2 separate regions of the Homo sapiens genome follow, and region 1 is linked to region 2. Evidence: fine-mapped expression QTL. A gene starts in region 2. The other region holds a variant in brackets. All regions are shown on one strand. Distances are between the middles of the regions.

What was found. PIP is the estimated chance that this variant, and not a neighbour inherited with it, causes the effect.
Region 1: its variant is fine-mapped to the expression of RBM24 in nasal epithelium (TOPMed, PIP 0.99).

The regions. Positions count from the first base shown.
Region 1 is chr6:17,518,285-17,527,870 of GRCh38, reverse strand. All of the region lies in intron 7 of CAP2 (cyclase associated actin cytoskeleton regulatory protein 2), which reads right to left. Among named protein-coding and RNA genes, the nearest start is that of FAM8A1, 77 kb to the left of the region's middle. The variant G/A (reference allele first, on the strand shown) is at 5,251.
Region 2 is chr6:17,276,248-17,285,833 of GRCh38, reverse strand. RBM24 (RNA binding motif protein 24) reads right to left here and starts at 4,473. Exons shown (of 4, transcript NM_001143942.2): 1 at 4,085-4,473; 2 at 2,906-3,029; 3 at 1,123-1,177. The coding sequence starts at 4,252.

The DNA of each region.
Region 1 (9,586 bases), 240 kb before region 2:
AGCACTTTGGGAGGCCAAGGCAGGTGGATCGCTTGAGGTCAGGAGTTCGAGACCAGCCTGGCCAACAGGCCAACATGGTGAAACCTCATCTCTACAAAATATATAAAAATTAGCCAGGCATGGTGGCACAACCTGTAATCCCAGCTACTCAGAAAGCTGAGGCACAAGAATCGCTTGATCCCGGGAGGCGAGACTGCAGCGAGCCGAGATCGTGCCACTGCACTCCAGCCTGGGCGACAGAGCAAGACTTTGTCTCAAAAAAAAAAAAAAAAAGAAAGAGAACAAAAATGAAAAAGAATATAATGAACACAATCTAATATGCTCAAGTGATCCATATATTCTGCATAAATTGCCTTGATATGTGGCCATAATTATTAGTTTGGCTTTGCTGACATTTAGATCAAATCTGGAATTTCCAGATTGTCTTTTCTTCTTGTCTGCCAGCTTGAGAATACAATTTCTCATAAAAAAGGAAAGATAAAATTAAATTTTCCATGGGAAAACTTTCCAGGGTTAAAGATAGCAGAGTATACTCATCAAAGAAACAAACTCAAGAGGCCCAACAGTTATATAAAGACCAAGAGGGACATGTGGCTTGAATTAGCTGGACAGCTACTTCATTTGGCCAGAAGGGCCTAAGTCTGAACTACCACTAAATTCAGGTTTTTTTCTTTCAGATTTCAGGGGCATACAGAAACGACTGTACTTTCTCCAATTATCTATACTTAGTAGATAGTAGAGGTGGGGGTTAAGGCAAAACAATAGCTGTTAGAAAGATTAGTTACCTTTGGCTCCATATTATATATGCATTTTGTTTATTTAGGGATGCTTAGTTTGCATCAAGGGTGCAGACTGGACCAATAAACCGTGGCCAGGGCTTGCCTATGTGTTCTTTTTTTTTTTTTTTTTTTTTTGAGACAGAGTCTTGCTCTGTCGCCCAGGCTGGAGTGCAGTAGCATGATCTCAGCTCACTGCAATCTCCGCCTCCTGGGTTCCAGCGATTCTCCTGCCTCAGCCTCCCGGGTAGCTGGGACTATAGGCATGCGCCACCATGCCCGGCTAATTTTGTATTTTTAGTAGAGACGGGGTTTCACCATGTTGGCCAGGCTGGTCTCGAACTCCTGACCTCAGGGGATCTGCCTGCCTCAGCCTCCCAAAGTGCTGGAATTACAGGCGGGAGCCACTACGCCCAGCCTGTGTGTTCTGTTTTATGAAGGGTTTGTTTTACCTTTAGAAGATAATCTGCACCTTCCCCCATTTCCCTTTTTAAGAAAACAGTTTTTGCTTAAGTTAATACTACCTTCTGTTTCCTGAGTTTATACCAACTGAGAATGAAAGGCAGTGGGTGACAAGGGACAGGAGCAGAGGAGGTGTGGGCGGTTGATGGGTGTTCCTGAATAAAATGCATTGTCCATTCCATTCCTATCACTGGACAGAAGGAAAGACACATTTTGGCTGGGTGCGGTGGCTGACGCCTGTAATCCCAGCACTTTGGGAGGCACAGAAGGTTGGATCACCTGAGGTCAGGAGTTTGAGACCAGCCTGGCCAACATGGTGAAACGCTGTCTCTACTAAAAATACAAAAATTAGTCAGGTATGGTGGTGCGTGCCTGTAATCCCAGCCGCTCTTGAGGCTGAGGCAGGAGAATAGCTTGAACCCGGGAGGTGGAGGTTGCAGTGAGCTGAGTTCACACCACTGCACTCCAGGTTGGGCGACAGAGCGAGACTCCATCATTAAAAAAAAAAAAAAGACACATTTTCATGCAGCTTTTGAAAAACAGACATGATCTATAGTTAATGGACTAACGCTTTGGAAATTTCATTGTGATGACAAATGAATACAGTGGATTTAGCAAATGTGTTTGAATCCTATCTGTTTTCAAGTCACTGCTGTCCCAGAACCAGGGTACCAGTCACTGCTACTGATCTCAGGCTGAACTGGAAATGGAGCCTGCATTCAATGAGCTCATAGTTTAGGAAGAGAGGATACTTCTGTGTTCCCAGACGTGGCAGGCACTTGGCTCCCAGACTTTGAGTCTTTGCTCAGGGCGTGTCTAGTTTGGAAGGCTCTTGCCCAACTGACTATCTGGAAAACAGCCTTCAAGCCTCAACCAAAATGTGTCTTTCCTCCTTTCGTAGGGTTTTTGGAACTCTCTTAGGAGGGAATTCCATGTTTCAATGTGGCACAGTGCCTGAAACATGGTTAAGTGCTTCATAAACATGTTACTGAATGAGAAAATAACTGCCATATAAGGTAGGAAATGCTAAGCAACACAAAAGAAATGGAGAGTATAAGAAGTGCTATGCAGCCGCTGAGGATGGAAGGATAACTTCCAGCTTGTGGTGGGCATGGTGATAAGCAGAGGTTGGAGAAGCTTCTTTTTTCTTTCTTTTTTTTTTTTGAGATGGAATCTTGCTCTGTCACCCAGGCTGGAGTGCAGGAGTGCAGTGTGTGATCTACGCTCACTGCAGCCTCCGCCTCACAGGTTCAACCGCCTCGCAGGTTCAATAAATGTATATTAACTTGCTAGCCCTTATTTTAGAGAGCTTTGAATTCTTGATTATGAAAAAGTTCTGGTAAATAAAATAATACTGACCATTAAAGTAGGCAGCTTTAAAAGCTACTACTATTTTGATTGATGGAGAGAAAGATTTAATACTCTAAAATGGCCAGGTGTGGTGGCTCATGCCTGTAATCCCAGCACTTTGGGAGGCCAAGGCGGGAGGATCACCTGAGGTTAGGATTTCGAGACCAGCCTGGCCAACATGGTGAAACCCCATTTCTATTTTTAAAAAAAGTACAAAAAGTAGCCAGGTGTGGTGGCGCGCACCTGTAGTCCCAGCTACTCGGGAGGCTGAGGCAGGAGAATCGCTTGAACACGAAAGGCAGAGGTTGCAGTGAGCCAAGATCATGCCACCACTGAACTCCAGCCTGGGTGACAAGAGCGAAACTCCAACTCAAAAAAAAAAAAAAAAAGAAAAGAAAAGAAAAGAAATACTCTAAAATATTTATAGATTCTTATTAAGGTATGAGGCAGGCTTGACTGGGGCTGGGCAGGACTTGAATGCCAAACCAGACTGAAGACTCGCTGCAATGGGGGAAAGAGGTGAAAGCACCTCTCCAGAAGACATGCCCACCAGGGCCATGTCAGTTGACCACTGCCATGGCAACACCTGGAAGTTACTAACTACCCCTTTCCATGGCAATGACCTGGAAGTTATCACCTCTTTTCTAGAACTTTCTGAATAACTTCCCCCTTAATTTGCCTATAATTAAAAGTGAATATAAATATAATGGCAGAATGGTCCCTGAGCTGCTACTCTGGGCACAGTTCCTATGGTACCCCTGCTGCTGCTGCACATTGCTGCTGCCATAGAAGCTGCTGTCTAACACCGCTGGCTCACCCTTGAATTCTCGCCTGGGCAAAGCCAAGAACCCTCCTGGCTAAGCCCCACTTTTGGGGTTCACCTTCCCTGCATCATTATCAACTGACACTAAAACTCAAAGGTATTTATGAGATAATAAAAACAGTTCTAAATAGAACACATTTACTTAGAGCTTCACAGTATAGCTCTTAATGACTGTGTGTGAAATTGGAGATATTTGACTATTTTTCACCTATTCTATTGAAGATATAGCACAGATTAAAATGAAAATTCACAAATACCCCAAATTTCAAAAGGCAGAAATTGAAGCCATAAGAAATAATCCATCAAATTAGACAACTGGTCCAGAAATAATCAAGAGATCATTACAGGAAAACTTCTTACTCCTTTTTTTTTTTTTTTTTTTTTTGAGACAGAGTCTTTCTCTGTCACCAGGCTGGAGTGCAGTGGCGCGATCTCAGCTCACTGCAACCTCTGCCTCCTGGGTTCAAGCCATTCTCTCCTGCCTCAGCCTCCTGAGTAGCTGGGACTACAGGCATGCGTCACCACGCCCAGCTAATTTTTGTATTTTTAGTAGAGACGGGGTTTCATCATGTTGGCCAGGATGGTCTTGATCTCTTGACCTTGTGATCCAACCGCCTCAACCTCCCAAAGTACTTTGATTACAAAAACATTTTACTCCTTAATTCTGTAAAACTGCATCTGCCTCCAGTCCTCCAGAAACTGCTCTTGGAAGGTTACTAATAACATGGTAAACATGGCTGATGACAGCCTTTGTCCAATCCTTATTCACCACAGCTTACTACAGTTGGTATCACTGGCCAGCCTGTTTTCCCTATAGCTTTGAGACTCTCCATTCTTCTAGTTCTCCTATCTCTTGTCTCCTTGATTAGTTTACCCCATTCTTGAAATAATAGTGTTTTCCAAGGTTTTATCCTTGATCTCACTCTCTCTTTTTTAACCATCTTATTTATTTGCCGGTCTTTTCTAGGTAGATGACTCCCAACACGTACATCGGGGTCTCCCCCTTCAGTGAATTCCAGATCTAAATCTCACCTCCTGACTCCACGTGTTTGGATGTCTCTCCTATACCTCCCGCACCTCAAACACAATGCAGTGAAACCCCAGGTGAAGATTTTTCTTCCTTCTCTACCAGCTCCTCCTTGCGATTTCCCTATTTTTATATTACCACGATTCTCTCCCAGACTTCCAGATTGGAAATTTTGTGTTAGATTTTATGTCCCTTGTCCTCCAACTCAGTGGCTACTCCATCTCTTTGCATTGCCATTGTCACACTCTAGGTCACATACTAACTACCTCACCCTCTAGCCATCCACTAAAGTCTCCCAACACGTATCAGGGCCTCTAATCTCTTCCCCTCTCCATCTATCTTATGCAATTCCTAAGTCATTATTCACAGTGTGTTGCTTTCTGCTTAAGAACCCATGCAGGCTGGGTACGGTGGCTCACACCTGTAATCCCAGCACTTTGGGAGGCCAAGGCGAGTGGATCACCTGAGGTATCAGCCAGGCATGGTGGCATATGGCTGTAGTACCGGCTACTCTGGAGGCTGAGGCAGGAGAATCACCTGAACCCAGAATGCGGAGGTTGCAATGAGCCGAGATCGTGCCACTGCACTCCAGCCTGGCGACAGAGTGAGACTCTGTCTCAAAAACAAAAAACAAACAACAAAACCTATGGCAAAGGAAACAACTTCAAACACTACATAGCCCCACCTTCTTAGCATAATGCATAAGGATTTCACCATCTGGCCCCAACCTGCCTTTCTGGCCTCACCTTTTGCCACATTCAGCTCTGCAAAACCACCAGCCTTTCTCTCAAAGTACATTGTTCATGTCTTAC[G/A]TACATATGCTGAATTCTCTGCCCCAAAACTGCCCTTCCCTTTACTGTTTGCCTAGGGAACTCCTGCTCACCGTCAAGATCCAAATCAAGTGTCAGCCCTTTTGTGGCTCTTCGTGCCCACCCAGGAAGGAGTCTAATTCACAAGGCTTATTTTCCAACCTAGCTTTGTATTGCTGTTATTTATTTATGCATCATAATAAAAACCCTGCTGCTTCACGGAAGAACTGTAGTATAAATATAATGCCTGGTGTGTGCTTGGTACATGGTAAGTAGCCAATAAGTAGTTACCAAGGAAGTGAATTACTAAATAAATGAACGTGTAAAAGTGAATGATTTCCCTATAACAACTCCTTTGGCCCAACTTAAATACAGTAGAGCAGTGCTTTTCGAACTTCACTATGCATATAAATTACCTGGGAATCCTGTTGAAAAGTAGGTTGTGATTTGGGAGGGCTGAGGTGGGGCCTGAGAGCCTGAGATTTCTTTTTTTTTCTTTCCTTTTTGTCTTTTTTGAGACAGAGTCTTGCTCTGTCGCCCAGGCTAGAGTCCCGTGGTGCAATGCAGGCTGACTGCAACCTCCACCTCCCAGGTTCAAGCGATTCTCCTGCCTCAGCCTCCTGAGTAGCTGGGATTACAGGTCTGCACCACCACGCCCAGCTAATTTTTGTATTTTTAGTAGAGACAGGTTTTCACCATGTTGGCAACACTGGTCTCGAACTCCTGACCTTAGGTGATCTACCCGCCTCAGCCTCCCAAAGTGCTGGGATTACAGGCTTGAGGTACCGCGCCCAATCAAGGGGCCTGAGCTTTCTAACAAGTGCCCAGGTTGCTGTTGGCCCCAGAACCATGCTGCACTACAGGATGGGCCGTATCTTCCACGTGGTCCTGGTCTATGCAAGCGTCATGCCTTGTGTGGATTCCCTAGCACACTGCTCCCCCTGTTCTATCATGGTGCATTGCTCATCTTCTTCAGCTAGAATGCGCGTTTCCGTGGACAGGAATCGTGTCCACAATGCCATCTACCCATCTTTGTATTCTTAGCCCCTTGCCCAGAACTCAGTGCATAGTAGATGCTTAAGCCATATTGGTTTAATTATGTGGTCTCTGTCAGGCTGAACTCACAGCCACTTCCAACCTAACTTTACTATCTACCTGTGCATTTGAGGCTTCTTTGTTAGTTGATGACACTTCTTTTTTTTTTCTGAGACGGAGTCTCGCTCTGTGGCCCAGGCTGGAGTGCAGTGGTGCCATCTTGGCTCACTGCAAGCTCCGCCTCCCAGGTTCATGCCATTCTCCTGCCTCAGCCTCCCGGTAGCTGGGACTACAGGCACCCGCCACCTTGTGCGGCTAATTTTTTTTTTTGTATTTTTAGTAGAGACAGGGTTTTACCGTGTTAGCCAGGATGGTCTCGATCTCCTGACCTCATGATCTGCCCGCCTCGGCCTCTCAAAATGCCGGGATTACAGGCATGAGCCACTGCGCCCAGCCAGTTGATGACACTTCTAACCCCTGTTGAGCAATGTGGAACCCTTCCATAAGAGAATAAGAGTAACTGGCCACCCAGAGCCCCAGAAGGGACCTAGAAGCCCAAACTGAACTAAGTAGAACGACGCAGCTGTGGTCAGGTACACTGGCCAGGGCCACTCCGTGGGAAGAGCCATAGAGAACAGTGAGCTTTGTCATCAGACAACCAACACATCATCTGAGGCGCTGCCCATTCACTTTGATTAATACCCCTAAGGTGTGGGTTTGGTACAAGTTCTAAATGAAAATTTGGATATAAAAGCTTAAGAACAGTTTTCTCTTGTAAATAGCAAGAGGAAGGTAAAGAGGCCTGAAGACTTGAAAACGTACAAGGCATACATATTCATAGTTAATGACATGCCACAGAGTCTACATTATTTATAATAAGTCGGGATACCCTCTGGCTGAGTTTTAATTTGATCAAAAGTAAGCTATTAAACTTTCACTTTGTTAACAGACATTTGGCCTTTACACCAAGAAACAGAAAGAAAAGAAATATCTACCTGGAGGAAAAGAAGTGATCCTAAAGCATTTTGCTTTGGGAAAAATGAAACGCCACCTTGTCTATAATTGTAACCACCACCAACGACTTGCATTTTCCTGGAGGTTCAGGAGAGGCTAGGATGGATGATAGTGTATAGGATGGATTTTTAAAACCCGTATTATTAAGAATTACATTGGCTGGGTGCAGCTTATCATCCTACCATGCTTATCATCCTAGCACTTAGGGAGGCCAAGGCAGGCGGATCACTTGAGCCCAGGAGTTTGAGACCAGCCTGGGCAACGTGGTGAAATCACGTCTCTACAAAAAAAATATAAAAATTAGCCAGGCATGTTGGTGCACGCCTGTAGCCTCAGCTACTTAGGAGGCTGAGGCAGGAGGACTGCTTGAGTTCAGGAGGTCAAGGCTGCAGTGAGCTGCAATCGTGCCACTGTACTCCAGCCTGGGCATCAGAGCGAAACTCTGTATCAAAAAAACAAAACAAAACAAAAAACAGTAACAACAAAAAAAATAGAACTACATCACTATTACATAAGACTGTATATACATTCATCCATGTGCAGTTTTATTCTACTCTACAAATAATTATATCTTATTTGATCCCAAAGCTAAAGTAATTCAGAAATATAGGAAAGGACAGAAATATGTCAACAAGTTTAACAACCGAAAGTTAATAAAATAATCACATTTCTCCTAATCATAGAATTCTTTACATGACCTTTATCTGAGCAGAATTTTCTGAACAGATAATAGTCTGTTTTTAGAACAGGATAATAGTCTGCATTTATAGATTCACAGAAATGAAGAGTTTTGTAGGAAAAAAGTCAATTATTTCAATAATTATAAGGGTAAAGACTAGGCCTTAGTCTTTCGACTTTAGTTATCTGATTTGAAGGAAATGCCAAGGAATATTACAGCTCTGACCAACTGCGAGGGATCCTAAGTAACAGTGCTGCTAATGGGTTTGTGCCAAAAGATCAATTTGTTCAACGAAGTGCATTTGAAACTTAGCACTGAGGAAATGACACAAACTCATATGAAAAAGAGGTCCAGTCCCAAGGATGAAACTAACTGAAAACAGCAAGTTAGTTTCTGGTGTGGGGTCTTTCTAGTTGACAGCTGTCTTAATAAGTTGGAAAAAAGCTCATAGAAATGACAAGATTCCATTTACCATGGTAAATGTAAGAAGACATTCCAGACAGATTATTCCACAGCTGCCTCCTCCCACCCAACTCACCCCACCCCACCCGGCACACTTGCACACACACGTAGACTCTCTTCAAATCGCTGGTCTCAAAGTTTGGCATTTCACCCTGACAACTGAACAGGGCAGCAGTTGCCTGACACAGCTGCGGTCTGGAGGCAGAGGTTAGGAGATGGGATCAGGGACTTTCAGCTCCAACTGTTAACTCAGGGAAGGATGATTTTGTAGAGCCACGTGCCCTTGGACAGTCCAGGTCTCAAACAGCAGGCTGTCAGTCACTAAAAACCCCACAGAGTGCAAATCTCAAAATCCAATTTGAAAATAGAAAAAAACAACAATTACTGAAAGTACTTGAGATGTTAAGTCGTCATAAACTTTTCACGGTGCAAGTAGGAGTTTTGTGCAATGGACTGTGTCTGTTAAGATGGAATGGGTTTTTTTGAAAAACCTCTGGGCTGGATGTGGTGGCTCACGCCTGTAATCCCAGCACTTTCTGAGGCCGAGGTGGGCAAATTCCTTGAGCTGAGGCGTTCTAGACCACCCTGGGCAACATGGCAAAACTCTGTCTCTACAAAAAATAAAAAAATTAGCCAGGTGTGGTGGTGCAGGCCTGTAGTCCCAGCTGCTCGGGAGGCTGAGGCAGGAGGATCATTAGAGTCCAAGAGGTCAAGGTTGCAGTGAGCCATGATTGTGCCACTGCATTCCAGCCTGGGTGTCACAGTGAGACCCTGTCTCAAAAAAACAAAAAAATTAAATTAAAAAAAAAATCTCTGAATACTGTGGTGTCCACAAACATCAACACCACATCTTTCTATAGTCTTTCATGATATTTATCATTTTATAAATACATAGTTTTTACAGAGTTGTGATCAGTGGGCAAACAAATGAAATGGTCTTGCTTTATTTTTTCCTCCCAAAGACCATTCAATCAGATGATTCTAGGAGTCCTTTTCTCTTCTCTGCAAGAATGCTGCAACTCTGGCTATAACTGTTTATCCTCCATTTTGCTGGAATGTCGACAGGCCACAGTCAGAGAGGAGAAATTAGCTTGATTTATGCTATGGACTATGCTTTGGAATCTTTAAGTCGTTTTTAATAATTTAAAA
Region 2 (9,586 bases):
AGGCGAGGGGTGATCTCCCACCCATATAACCTCTGAAAGGAAGAGAAATGAGGACCTTGGAACAGGAAAACTGGTAATCACAGGACCCAAAGACAACATAAATATGAACAGGTGTTCACCTGAGTTAGATCTGAAAGGTGAAAGTTAGTGTGACGCTACTCAAAAAAACTGGCTTGTGTTAATAAAATCTGATGAGAGTTGTTGAACCTTTAAATTAGATGGCCTAAAAGTGGATACACATTGCAAAAGAAAGAACCCCATTCCCAGAAAATTTCCCATAAAACAGAAACTTAGGACATGCAAGCAATGAATCTGTATTCTGACAAAGAGAAATCACACAATTTAGCACTCACTACAAAAATGTGGTTAAATGGAAGTCACAGGCTACAGCTTAAAAGCAAGAAAAAAAAAAAGGCCCTTTGCTTCCCATGGCAAAGTCAAAAGTCAACACCCCTCAACACCACCACCAAAATCAAAACGCAAAGAGCCCCTTCCCCGAGGAAAAGAAAACACTTTCACTACAGCTCTTTTCAATTAAGTAAAAAGCACACAGTTTAGCTATCAACACCACTTCATTACTGTAATAAATAAAATAAAGCACACGAAGGGCTATTGACTATTGTGAAAAATAAAAACAACAACACCAACATCCATGCATCGTTAATCACCATCTGAGCTTGTGTGTCTGAGTCTACTGGTTACAGAGTTTAATTCCAAACAGAACTATTCCACCTCTTATCATGGTATCCTTCTGATCAGTTAGCTTAACTGTATACGAGCCCTGTCAGGTTAGAAAGAGATAAATAAAATTGAGTCAAGTCGAACAGTAGTAATGGTGATGGGACACAATCGTCTTGTACACAAGTCATACCTGGTATTTTTGTTTTGTTTTGCTAATCATAAGCTCAAAATTTGTCTCGTTTGGAGGCTGCATACTTGGTCAGATAACTTGACTCATCTAAAAATATTTATAGTATCAGCATTAAAAATGCACAAATATATATAAAATTGTATAACTAGGACCATTCTGTGACATCATGATCTTATCTGTATATAACAAAGAGGCACGTTAACAAATGATAGTCATACTGAAACTTAAGAAAGCCTGATTAATCAACTTACCCGAAAGGTCTTTGTATAAGGGCTGGATGAAGTTGTTGAACACCAAAGGCAAAACCTAACAACAAAATATACCACATTCTTTATTTGTGCATGGTTAGGCATTTATTATTCCTACATGTAAAATGCAATCACAACTTTCACTTATAAAAGATAAACATTCTTTCGCCACTTTAAAGAAACTATATGTATGTATATTTTTTAAAGTCAGTTTTATAAATGCTATCATTGATTCAAAATAAAGGTTTTAACAGAGAAAAGGTGAAAACTTTAAAAAAATCTGCAAATTTTAGTTGACAGACACAGAATCAGACCTTGGGAAAATGTTCATGAAATAAAATTAAGTACAGCAGGATTTGACAGTGAAGTTACATCTCAAATATTCTCACAGTTTTGAACCAGAATCTATGAAAAGTCTTTGTAATTTGGAACGTTCTGGGATGCTTCAGACAATGCTTTGGAAGATTATGGGTTTTACACTTTCCAGTATTAAAAATTCACAAAAAAAAATGTTTTTTTTCTGGATACTACATACCCACAATGTATTAGACAAATTTTTTTAACGCCCATGAATATTTGCACAAACACTCATTTTCTTGACAACCTAGTTTCCTTTTAAACCCGTTTGGATGGAAGTGTCAACCTCTTCCCAAAATTTCAGATGGAAAGGCTTAGGAGTGAAGAGTATATGATTTAATCAAACTTTACAAGTAAAGTTGCCTGACCAAAGAAAATATTATATTTGCTTAAAAATCAACTCTCAACTATTTGTGCTAATGCAAAGGGCAGTGTTGTAAATAATCCAAGAGGTATTGTTTTCCCATAGACAAAAAACTGCTCCCTTTTGGCAACTAATAGCTACATGACTTAAGTAAAATATTTCTCATCTCTAAGCATCAGTTTCTTTGTCTGTAGCATAGGGTTCTTGAGTAGGTGCAATTTCTGTTTTCTTTGATTGCTAATACTCTGTGATTTTATGTTGAAGGTTTACCATTTTGGGCCAGGCGCGGTGGCTCACGCCTGTAATCCCAGCACTTTAGGAGGCCAAGGCGGGTGGATCACCTGAGGTCAGGAGTTCAAGACCAGCCTGACCAACACAGTGAAACCCCGTCTCTACTAAAAATACAAAATTAGCTGGGTGTGGTGACACATTCCTGTAATCCCAGCTACTTGGGAGGCTGAGGCAGGACAATCACTTGAACCCAGGAGGCGGAGGTTGCAGTGAGCCTAGATCGCGTCATTGCACTCCAGCCTGGGCAACAAGAACGAAACTCCATCTCAAAAAAAAACAAAACCTTTACCATTTGGACATCGCCCCTACCCCTTAATGCTTCCCTTGGGTCTGTGTTCAAGTCAGACTGCCTGCTCTGAGCACAGTGCAACTGGTGCTAAAAGGAGAGACACCACTAAGTAGGGAAGTATATTAGCTGAAGTCGACAAATTTGGCCTATATAATCCACATGTGAATTATCTACAGGTGGCTAAAAATTGGAAAATTGAGAGCAGACTACAAATGTATGCCATATAGGAAACAGGTGAGACATGACTAACTCTTCTTCCTGCACGACCCCCAAGATCCATTTTTGCACACAGGTACATTTCAAGCCTTGAGAGGAGTATTTACAACTCTCATTTATGTTTAATGCCTTGGTAGAATAACAAGCCATGGTTCAAGTTTACTAAACACATCTACAGAAAGAGACAATGTCTTCTAAATTAGAGAATCATCCCACCCATAAATGGGGGGTTCTTGGAGAGGGGGGTAGGGGAGACAGACATTTCTCACCTGGTTGCATGATCCTTGGTTTTGCTCCTAAGTATGCCAGGTTCACGTTGGCCTTTCTGCCATCAATGATGGGATTGGGATCCTTGCAGGCCCTTTCGGCAGCAGCCCGGTCAGCCATGGTGACCTTAGCAACAGACACACACAGACATACATACATAACCTCTAAATTAACCCATGAAGGAAATCAAGAATCACAATGGAGAAGTCATTCATGATAAAACTGAGATCAAACTTTTTTTCTATTCTTTGCTTCTTTTGGCTGGACCCTCCTCCTTGATCTCCCATTTTTAACAGGCGGGCGGGGGCGTGGGGGGGGGGGGCGGGTAGACGAAGGAAAAAAGAAAGAAACCCTCTAACCCTGCCTCCCCCCACCCCACCGCCGAAATCTTAAGGGTGTTAGTAGGGCCTAGCCGAGATTTGGAAGCCTAAATTCTTGGAACTCTAGATCCTCCTTCCCCCGAATCCCCCGCCCCCCAGGTCCCTACTCAGCCTCAGAGGCACCGTTTGCTTTAAAGAAAGTCCAGCCTTACATCCGCCCAACGCTCCCAACCTCGAAAACACTCCCCAACGACAATAGCTATTGTCCTACTCTGGGGCTCCCTGCTCTTCGGCAGCTGAATTTGCACGCTTAAATCTCTAGGAAGGAAGCTTAATATGCTCTGTTTCAGTTCGGCAAAGAGCCCTAGGATCATGATTTAAAAGAACCTACCTTTGCAGTTAAAAGGCGGGGGGATGACACAAGGGCAACAGCCCCAGACCTCGTGGGGTGTCCCCTCCCTGCCCCAGCCAAAACACCAGAACACACGCATTTTTACAAAGCAACAGCGCGCTTAACAACCGGCATCCAGCCCGGGAATGCAATTGTTCAGGGTTGCGGCCCCTCCCTCGCAACCCTCCGCACCCCAAATCCCGCCGTCATTACAGGTCTCTCCTTTCACCCCTGCTCTGCCCTGCCCGGCCCCCGACCTCGCACAGCGCTGGGTCTTCTCCGAACCCCGCGAGGCTGGCGCCGACCCTCTCCCCTAGCAAAGTTTCAGTTCACCCCGGAGCGAAGGGGCAGCGCCGCTCTACCCGCGGGGCTCCTCACGGGTCACGCCGAGCCCCTCACTCCAAGCTCCCGATCCCCGGGGTCAGCCGCCACTCCGTCCCTCCCCGTCACCCCCAGTCCGTGCAACTTACAAATCCATAGCCCCGGGACTTGCCCGTCTGCCGGTCGGTGATGACCACCGCCTCCTCGATCTCGCCGAAGACCTCGAAGTACTTGCGCAGGCTGGCGTCGGTGGTGTGGTAGGGCAGCCCCCCGACGAAGATCTTGGTGTACGTCGTGTCCTTCTGGGTCGTGTGCATCTTCGCACCCGCCCCGCGGCTCGGGCTCCGGCTGCGGCTGCGGCTCGGGCAGCGGCTGCGCCTCCTCCTCCGGCTCCGCGTCTCCCGCACCCTTTCGCGGCCGCCGGGGGCCAAGGGCGAGCCCGGGGGCGAGGGCGGCGGCGCGGCGGGGGCGAGCGGCCGGGGGCGGCCGAGAGCGCCGGGCGCGCGGCTTCCGAAGTCGCCAGCGGCCCTGGAGACTTGACTTCGCTCTCTCCTCCCGCCCCCCCTGCCGGTCACCGTACAAATTCTCCGGATCGTCTGGATTAGAATCGGGTTCTATAGAATGTGCAAGCGGTTTCCACTCACCCGGCGGGGAGGCCAAAAATGAAAAGAGAGGGTAGTTCTCAAGCGAAGAAGCGGGTGCTTTAGAGGTAGATTTTTCTTCCTTAGGAATCAGGTGCCTTGGGTGGGGTGTGGGGAGGGTCCGCGGGAAGAGCGTCCGAGCGCCGAAGCGGGCGGGGGGCGCGGCGGCGGGGCCAGGGGCGAGGAACTCCGCGCAGCTTCGGCTCTGGTCTGTCCCTCCCGCCGTGGGATCTGGAAGACGAGTGCCGAGGACAGCTCTCCACCTCTCTGCTCCCTTCCCCCGCGGGCCGGGGGTCGACGCCCGGCTGGGGAGGGGGGCGGGCCGGACGCCTGCGATTGGCCGCGGCAGCACCTGGGGCGCCGGGCGCCGCCGCCCCCCAGCTGTTGGGAACAGCTGCTTCTCTCCCCGCGCGGCGCGGCGCTGGGGCTCGGGGCTCCCGCTCTGTAGCCGGCGATGGGGTAGGGCTGGAGACGCCTGTAGGCGGCCTGGCTCTCGGCGTCGCCTGCTCTAACCAGTCAAAGTCTTAGGGACCCGGCGCAGCACCAGCCGGGACCCAGGGTGCGGGGACTGTGCCCAAGGAGGAAGCTGCGTTGCTTTCCAGAGGGGACGACGCGAGCTTTTTGGGTTAGGCCTCGGTGACAGGGCCGGCGACCTGGACTGGCGAACTGGGGTCCCCAGAGGCCTGGGGCGATTCGCTGAGAGGCCAATCCCCTCCCGGGCGCGGGGGGTCAAGGAGCTCGGCCGAACGAAACCCAAGCTGGACACCCTGGGGTCTGAAGAGTGAGAAGGAGGGCCCCAACTTTCTTTGGCCCCAAAAAGCCAGTGCGGGGAAGTATCAGAGAGGTAGAGCCAGAAGGAAAAGAAAGATCTAGCGCTTGGGTGTAGTTGGGAAAACCATTAGCTTTAATTGCTACCGCCCAGCCAAACCAAGTAACCGGAGATACCTATGTCCATCAGGCACCGCCTTCTATTTCAGAGGACCATAAGTTAGTATTTTAGCCCCCACAGTCACCAAATTTGTCTTTCCTCCCTAACTTAGTTATTCAGGAAGATTGGTACAGATGTCTTAGCATAAGTCGTTCTTTTTTTTTTTTTTTCCCTAAACAAAGAATTAATCTATTTCTTTCTCTTTGAATTACAAGAATGTTTAGTGGCTTGACCTCATCTGTTTTTATCTGGATGTAAATGTAAAAGGTATAATTTTTGAAATCAACTTATTGCATAACCAGTGGTTTCTACCAGCAGACCTGAAAGCATTTGTAGAACATAGGGCACCCCATATATATTTATTACTTTACATCAGCTTTTTGCAACTTCTTTTAATTGAGAATTCATTCAATTAGGCCTTAAAATCAATCAGTCATACTTGAGGTTTGGATGAAAATATTTGATGTGAGCAGAAGGTTTCATCCACCATTGTTGGTGCACAATTGCCTTTTAAGTCCTTTCTACGGGAGTCTACAGTCCCTACATTAATCGCCCCTGAGCCGCACCATTTATTCCATTAAAACAATTCAGTATGTTAACCGTTAGAGAGGTGCATACTCTGTTTCTCTCCAGGACACCTTTGCAGTCAACCCAAGAGGGTGAGAAATGTTGCATTTGCAAAGGCTAATGGGAATGCAAATATTCTTGTGCAAAACATTAAATTCCGTTTTTCATCTTGCTGACTTCCTCATGAGGTTGACTTTTTGACGTCACTGGTTTCTTTAAGTTTGAACCCCCAGTGGGAGATATAGAGAAATCAGAAATCTATTAAAGTTAAAAACATTTTTTTCACCCGATTAAAAAAATAATAAAGAATTTTACAGACAGATGAGAGCCAGAAAGTGAAATTGTAAACACCCTCTCTTCATTACTTAAGTTAAAGGACAGGTTCAAAAACGACTCTCTGTGCTGGTATGATGAAAGATAATTTTTAAAAGTTAGAAAAACAAAGCAGGCGGGGAAAGAGAAGAGGCGTGTTTTTTAATATTCAACATCCATCTTGTGTCATTTAAGAATTACTGTACGTAGATGAGGCTCAGGCAAAACCCTTTTGTGAAGGGAAGCTGCTTAGAGAGAAGCCTTAGAAGGGCGCCTTTGGCTGTCTCGCCTTTCTTCCTACCTGGATTGGGAGCCCACCCTGGAGAGGACTGTGATAATATCAGGGAAGGAGGGTGTCTGGGAGTGTAGCCAGCAGCTAGGATGTTCACTAGGTAAAGTGGTGAGATCTACAAGGAAATTCTGATCCCGGGTTGGAATACTTGTGTCCTAGAACTCAGCTTCTGGAAATAAGACGCCTCCTTGTCATTGTCCCTCCCATCCCGTGCAACCCCTGACTGCAGTGTTTTTATTCTTTCAAGGGAACAGTAAATACTTGATCACTTTGCCTGAAACTTTGCCTGGACGGTCCCTAATTTTGAATTCCAGGGATAATTAAAACATTACTAATACACTGGTATTACGTGAGTCACTGAGAACAAAGGTTAAGAGGGATGGAGATTCCTTATTTTCCAAACGTATTTAAACGGAAGCCAGAATTCATACCCAGTTCATCTCAACAAACTTTCATCAAGACCCCCTTCCCTTCGCCCAGGCAAGCACTGTGGTAGGCATCATTGCTGCCCCTGTGGGTTTTGTTTTACATTTGCACCAAGGTGGACACAGTTAAAATGGCCAGATCCTCATTCTTGGTGGATTTACGAATCTGAGCCATCAAATCATGTAGCCTTGGGGCCATAAAGTTTTTCTGAATTCAAGGTTTCAAGGTTAAGTACCGAATATTTCTGTACAATTACTCATTACAAATTCAGGTTTGAAAAACAATGCTTGGATAATCCTTTTGCTTTGTCAGCTGCTTTTGGCAGAGAATACTTGTATATTCACAGGCCTTGTGCAATATAATGTGTGCTTCTTTGGAAAGAAAGAACCATAAAATACTGTAAAAGTTATAAATAGGTTCCACAAGGTTGTCATCTCCAAATTAGTACATATGGATGGGCCTGAAGTTTTGGTTCCTACTCCATGGCAAGATCAATATTATTTTATTACTTACTGTAAATTATTGTCCACTTTGTTCAAAATCTTTATCTGACTATAAAGGCCAGAACCAAACTCACAAGTTTCACATTCATGTATAACTGTCTTCTCTTCTCCCCTTGCCTCTTAAATTAATCATGGAAATCAACTTCAGGCTCACAGCCTTTTAGAATAATTTTGAAAAAAGAGAGAAATATTTCATGAAGATTGAGAAGCACTCTTTTGGGCTTTGTACCCCAGAGATAATATTGCTTTGGACAATAAGCCACCTGAGAGCAGGGTGACACTCTTAGGTGTCACTGGATCTCCTGCTGGTTATTAAAACCCTTCAGAGGGTTCTACATATACTTGGCACTAAAGAAATATTTACTGAAAAAAAATTGATGTTTTAAAGATGCCTGCCTTCAAGCTTGATGGGAAGAAATGCATTCTTGATTAGAATTGACGACCTATAAAGTGGGCACTTTTTTTTTTTTTTTGAGGCTGGGCACTTTTTTGTTTTTTTTTTTTAAACAAAAATATGGCTTCAGTGAAGTCTTTTGTTTTGGTGGTTTGGAAATATTTTATCTTCTTTTGAGTATCTGTGTGAGCATTTTGATGTAAAACCAACAGGTTTTCTGGCCTTTTGAGAAGTCCCGTCATCAGCTGTATTTCTGTTTCTTTGGGTGGGTTGCTAATTCTCTCTCAGTAACAGATAACAAATGTGTGTGATAGGTTATGCTGCTATTTTAGTGTGCAGAAGAATTGGCAGTCAAAAACCTAGTCAGTTCAGCTCAGACTCACCTCTGGGGGAATTCTATTCATGTTGCATTAAACCACAGCTAAGCTGGTAAATAAAGTGAAATGCAAATTTGTGCCTGTTATTCAGTCATTAAAGTCATAATGTCTCTTTTACACTGAAAATCCAAAAAACAGAAAGCAGAGCAGGATTATTTGAGGGACAGGCAAGGGCAAAAATCAAAGTGTCGAGGGACAAAAATGTTCATTGCCAGTGTCACCGTGCCAGTAATTTCACCCTGCCTGTGTAGAAGTAGCTTTAAGTGTATGCACACTTTAATTTCTATTATGTAAACCCGAAAGGCAAGAAAGAGAATGCAAACATTTTAAACCCACTGTGTGCTTGTTCACATTTTAAACTCAGGGTGTCCTTTGGTTTTAAGTCTTTTAAACAGTGAGCTTCTGAGCTGCCAAGTTATTTTTAGGGAACTGATGATACTCTCCAAATGTATTGAATGACCTCTCTCTGGATGACAAATACATTCTAATGCTGTTGCTTGTGGGCTGGGCAGAGGGCACCGGGTGATGGAAATAGTCCTGGATCTCAAGACAGGAGACCTAGAGTCTAGTCCAGGCAGTTATTAACCAGCCCCAAGACCTTGTTTGGTTTATTTCATTAAAAAGGACAAATGTGGTTAGAAAAATACTCATGATCTTATCCTAGAATGGAGGATACTAGCGTGACCCTTTATTTAAAGATGTCTATAGAGGGTGACCTCTGACTTCAAAGATGGCTTAATGTTAATACTTGAGTGTTGCTTATTAACTTTTTAATTTAAGCCATTTGAGATCATTTTGTAAGATTGATATTTTCTCTGATAACAAAGGAAAGGCATATTCATGATAGAAAGTTATGAAAACATAAAGATATACAAAGAAGAAAATAAAAATTACCCACAATTCTTTCTACTCCTTAAAATAACTGTTGACATTTTAGAGTATCTAATTCCAGGCTTTTCTTATACATAAATATACACACGTAAGTGTTACAAAAGGAAAGTACAGCTTTTATCAGCTTTTTAAAAAAACTACTAGTATATATAGTGAATATTTTTCCTTGTTTTAAATTGTTTCTACAATTTGAATAGCATTTTAACATGTCATTGTCCCCAAGTTTATTTATGCAGTCTCTTTTTGTTGGATATTTATATTTTTCCAAGTTTTCGCAGTTATAAAGGGCTCTGAAATTAATACCTTTGCAGATATATATA